Regions from separate parts of the Homo sapiens genome. Here region 2 is linked to region 1. Evidence: fine-mapped expression QTL. A gene starts in region 1. The other region holds a variant in brackets. All regions are shown on one strand. Distances are from middle to middle. Region 1 holds the start of ZSCAN32 (zinc finger and SCAN domain containing 32). Region 2 overlaps LOC105371059 (a long non-coding RNA gene).

Region 1 (2,500 bases):
AAGAAAAAGAAATCCCCAGGATGATGGGAGAGGACCCTCCTTACCCACTGCTTTGGTTTCTTGGATGCTCTGTGAAAATCTTCCACGAGGGTCACAATCTCCTTGCTGCTCATTGGACATCGATGCCTGACCCGAGCCTGGATCTCCGGGGGCAGGATGGTCAGGAACTGCTCCATCACCAGAAGCTCCAAAATCTGCTCCTTGGTGTGCAGCTCGGGTTGCAACCACTGACGGCAGAGCTGTCGGAGCTGGGAGAGAGCCTCTTGGGGTCCAGACACCTCTTGATAACAAAAGCGTCTGAAGCTCTGGCGGCAGAGCTCAGGATCTGGGCAGTTTTTTTGCAGAGGAGGGCCCCGTTTCTCTTCTAGTTTGGCTATTATGTGTCTCTCTTGCTTGGAGGAAGCTTCAGTGTTGGAGCTTAAAGTTATCTCCATTTTAGCTGCCATTTTGGGCGTCAGGAGACAACTCTCTCCTTGTAAACGGGTTAAGCCTTTGGGATCATGACCCTGGAGAAGTCTCTGAATACTAGAAAGATTCTAGAAACGAAGGTTCTCTGAGGATGTTAGGGGGAACGGGATGCAGAGACAAAGCCTCACTTGCTAGCCTTTACTAGCCAAACTCAAGACAACGCGGTCCCTGGGAGTGGGAAGAGTTTTGTCTTCTTGTCAGTTTTTTGCAGTCTTGCAAAGGAGAAAAGTCATAACGTCCTAAAAGGACTCTGGGGAAAAAATACTTCTTTTATTTCAGTAGCAAGCACACAGGTCTCGGATTTAATGAGCAATACGCTCTAACCGGCGGGTGGAGCGGAATCCCTAGGAAAAGTTCAAGCTGTCGCAGGTAGCTTGCCCCAACTCTCCCGCATCCTGGCGGAAACCGACCGGGTGCATGTCGCCGGGTGCTAAACGGTAGAGCTAAGCGAGGCCACAGCGCCAGCCGGGGGTGTGAGGTAGCGAACAGCCTCCTGCACGCGAGCAAAGCGGCTGCTCGCTGCCGAGGCGCCGCAGGCCCAGTGGCTCCGGCCTCCAGGGCGGCCCCGCGGCCCAGCCAGCCCCAGGCCTGGCGAAGCTGCCGCAACCCGATGCGCAGCTGAACTCCACGCCCGGTGTGAGCTCGGACTGGCGACTGCGACACCGGTACCCCGAACAGCCCGGCGCCCCGCACCCACCTGCAGCCGACTCACCTCTCCGGGAACCCAAGACCGAGGGACTTAGGACCCGACACCGGCGAGCACGGGCTGGGGGCGGGGCCGATGCCACTCGCTGCGGAGACGCCCACTAGCTGCTGAGGACAACTACTGACAGGGCCCGCCTCCTGCCAAGGGCATTCTCTACCGTCTATTGGTTGCTGCGCCTGTCAATACCGTCGCAGTGCATCCCGGGAGCTGCAGTCCGGCAATTCGGCTTGCGGGCCTGCGCAGGGGCGTGCGTAATGGGCGGAGCGAATCGCGCCGCTGACTTCCGGCCCGGAGGCTGAGGGAGTTTGTGGAGTCGCGAGTGCTGGTGTCCGGTGAGTTCTCCGCTTCCTTGCGGCCGGCGGGATTAGCCGCTGGGCCCTGCGACGGCCGAGGAGCCCCTCCCCGCTGGGAGTCTTCTCCGAGGCGTTCGGGTCCGGCCCCGATGGGCGTCTCCTTGGGACAGGCAGCCTCCCTCAGGCCGGGCGTCCCCAGACGCGCCGCGATCACCGTGCCCCGCTCCCACCGTGCGGATCACCCCGAGCCTGAGCGCCGGCGCCCCGGGACCCCCTGGCCTTGACCCTGCTCATCTCGTCCCTGTCTCGCCCACTCCCTACTCATCCACAGTGCCTAGCCCTGGCACCGAGTGCGTTCTGAGTACTCAATAAATAGTTAACTAAGTGAAAAACCTATCAACCTGGCTCCCCATCCTCATGCTACATTTTTTTCCGAGTGTTTGGGCCATCGCTAGAGTGAAGTAAAATTTTCAGAGAACAGCATTTTAAAATTTAACGATGAGTGGGAGGTAAGGGGTCAAAAGGGGTCAAGAAGGGTGCAGGTTCCGCCTTCTGCATGAAGTTAGAAGAGCTTTTATTAAATTCTTCTTCAGCCAGGTAAGGCACAGGATGAACATAATGAAGGCAAGGGGTGCTGGTTCTAGTCCTGGCCTTGCTGCCTAGGAGCTGTGCTGTGTGATGCTTTAGGCAAGATACTTCATCGCTCTCAGTTTCTTTTTGGCTAGAAAGCAGTGCTAACAATAATAATGCCCTTGATTTCTCTATCTCTAGAAGCACTGAAATGTAAAGAGAATTTAAGTGAAGGCAGTTCAAGTTCCTTGAGAAAAGGGAACCCAAATCCATTTTTAAAATATAAAAAAATTTCTTTAATTTTTAAAAAACATTTACCATCATAACCATTTTTAAGTGTACAGCTCAGTAGTCCTGAGTATATTCATCTTGTTGTGCATGCTGGATCCATTTTAATACCACATGGTGAGGGTGTATCAGCCCCTGGAGAAAATGTAAATTACGATCTGCTTTAATCTGTGTT
Region 2 (3,018 bases), 27 kb after region 1:
TCGTTCACACCTTCCCTTTACCCTCTCACCTTGGCTCTTAGCCTTTGTTGAATATCTGGGCTCTGGACCATTTCAGATCTACTGTCATTCTTTCTCAATGGCTAAGCCACCTGACATCTCCACATGGGATCTTCTAGTCCTCTGGTATTAACAGTATCTTTTGATTCCGGCTCACTCTGTCCAGACTAAACTAATCCCTATAAACCTGTTCAGAAAACTTGCTTATCAGTCCAAATTAAAATCAGGTTCTCTTCCTTGGGTGCCAATAGGTCACCATGAATGTCCCAAGTGTCTGAGGAGTAATGAAGAAACCACAGTTGATTGTTGCCTGGCAAGGGCTGACCAAGATAGACAAGAAGTTGCTCTGCAGAGCCCTGTTTTAACTCCAGCCTCATGCCAAACTGCTCAACTACCTTTGGTGCTAGAAGTGGTTGAAGGACTCAGTGGAAAGTAATTCCATGAAATTAGGACATCCTACCCCCAAATAAGCCTTTAACAGAAGTCCTCTCCCACAAGTGTGCAGCTGCTGTCACTACATAAGACCTGGAACTGAGGACTGCTGTCTGCCTCTCTCTGGTCACCCTGCCTATCTTGAGGATCTGTAAGTAGTGAAAACTCTGAAACTTTCACAGTGTGGCTGTGGTGGTCTCACCCACCCCTGATGGTGAGACCACCCCCGAGGAACCCAGGCAGCCAGATCCCCTGCTGGTTTCTTCTTCTGGGGCCTCTGGTGGCTGCTGGGCACAGTAGCTAAGTTAATGGAGAAACCCAAAGAGTTCTGTGTAAAACACCAAGACATGACCCTTCTAGGGGCTATCATGGAATATGGGCCTTTCTGAAGGGAGGACTGGAGGACATGACAAAGCTTAGATAAGGAACTGAGCTGTCTCAGTCTGGCAGCTGCACCACCATTTCACCTGCTTCTTTCCCCCAATTCTGGTCATGACAGAACTGTACGGTCATGTCTATGATGTCACAGGCACTGATGAGCTCTCATCCCTGGATTCTTCCCCTTCCAGCCTGAGACTCTTTTGTGTCTCACCATTTCTTGGAGTCACTGGGTTCCTCTATAAGGCCTTATGGTCTGAATGGTCCTGAGTATGAGCTCTGGCTCTTCTCTTGGGAAAGTCCCTGAGGAAGGGGGCTTCATTGGCTCTAATAGGAGCTTGGCAACTCCCCCCATAATCCCAGAGAAAAAAAAACCCTATCACTGACACCCTACCTCATCCCTTCAGAAATCCCTGTATGGGCTCAGAGAGCAGAGGTATGGTAACAGAGATTCCTGAAAGCCAGAGCTAAACACTTGAACGTGGAGCGGGGCAAGTGCAGCTGAGCAGAACAGAATTAGAAGAGCAGTCAGATATTCATGTGGCCAAGAAGCACGTGAAAAAATACTCATCACTAATCATAAGAGAAATGCAAATCAAAATCCCCATGAGATACCATCTCAAAGCAGTCAGAATGGCTATTACTAAAATGTCAAAAAATGACAGATGCTGGTGAGGATGCAGAGAAAAGGGAATGCTTATACACTGCTGGTGGGAA[T/C]GTACATTAGTTCAGCCACTGTGGAAATCAGTTTGGAGATTTCTCAAAGAACTTAGAGCTACCATTCAACCCAGCAATCCCATTACTGGGCATACAGCCAAAGGAATAATCGTTCTACCAAAAAGACACACGCACACATATGTTCATTGTAGCGCTATTCACAATAGCAAAGACATGGAATCAATCTAGATGCCCATCAATGGTGAAGTAGATAAACAAAATGTCATACATATACACCATGGGATACTACACCACCATAAAAAAGAATTAAATCATGTCCTTTGCACCAACATGGATGGAGCTGGAGGCCATTATTTTAAGCGAATTAACAATGGAAGAGAAACCCAAATAACACGTGTTCTCACTTGTAACCGGGAGCTTAGAAGTACACATGGATACAAAGAGGGGAACAGCAGACACTGGGGCCTACTAGAGGGTAGAGAGTGGGAGGAGGGTGAGGACTGGAAAACTACCTATTGGATACTATGCTCATTACCTCGGTGACAAAATAATCTGTAAACCAAACCCCCTCGACAGTCAAGGTCTCAGCACCACAGCTGCCAGGGACACAGAGCACATCAGGGTCCTGTTGGCTTAGGGCAGTGCAGGAAGGTCTGTGGCTGCTCCCACCCCAGATCCACAGCTGTCACACCGTGCAGCACAGTACCCAGCCCCAAGCTGGTCCCACTTTGGCCCCCTCCCTCTCTCTCTTTTTTTTTTTTTTTTTTTTGAGATGGAGTCTCACTCTGTCACCCAGGCTGGAGTATAGCGGTGCGATCTCGGCTCACTGCAACCTCCGCCTCCCGGATTCAAGCGATTCTCCTGCCTCAGTCTCCTGAGTAGCTAGGATTACAGGCACGCGCCACCCACACCCGGCTAATTTTTGTATTTTCAGTAGAGACGGGGTTTCACCATGTTGGTCAGGCTGGTCTCAAACTCCTGACCTCGTGATCCACCTGCCTGGGCCTCCCAAAGTGCTGGGATTACAGGCGTGAGCCACTGCGCCTGGCCTCTGGCCGTCTCTCGAGCAGAAAGCCAGCTGTATTGATCTGTCTGGGGGAGAGGTGTGACTCAGACACTGAGGACTTAACTAAAGTGCCCACACCTTGCTGGGCATTGCAATCCCTCCATCACAGAGCAGGCCTTTCAAAAACCAGCAGATTCTCATTCAGAGTAGGACCAGGTGAACATAACCTGCAGAGGAGAAAGGATGCATTTTACAGGAGACAAATCTCCCATCCTTAATATTGTCCCTCTTTGGGACAGCTGTTTAGACCCTAGGAAATAACCTTCCTCCAGAGAGTAAAAAATATTACCACCGTAGTTGGCCCAAAAGCAGCTACCGATTAAGAAAGCATTCAAGGCCAGGTGCGGTGGCTCACACCTGTAATCCCAGCACTTTGGGAGACCGAGGTGGGCAGATCATCTGAGGTCAGCAGATTGAGACCAGCCTGACCAACATGGAGAAACTCC

Evidence for each region. PIP is the estimated chance that this variant, and not a neighbour inherited with it, causes the effect.
Region 2: its variant is the best candidate, but not a certain one, in a credible set for the expression of ZSCAN32 in whole blood (INTERVAL, PIP 0.85).

Annotation. Positions count from the first base shown.
Region 1 is chr16:3,399,951-3,402,450 of GRCh38, reverse strand. ZSCAN32 (zinc finger and SCAN domain containing 32) reads left to right here and starts at 1,447. Exons shown (of 7, transcript NM_001284527.2): 1 at 1,447-1,506. It overlaps ZNF174 (zinc finger protein 174), which reads right to left and starts at 1,236. Exons shown (of 3, transcript NM_003450.3): 1 at 45-1,236. The coding sequence starts at 446. RefSeq lists silencers at 890-1,109, 1,660-1,809 and an enhancer at 1,187-1,686.
Region 2 is chr16:3,372,527-3,375,544 of GRCh38, reverse strand. All of the region lies in intron 1 of LOC105371059 (a long non-coding RNA gene), which reads right to left. Among named protein-coding and RNA genes, the nearest start is that of OR2C1, 18 kb to the right of the region's middle. The variant T/C (reference allele first, on the strand shown) is at 1,546.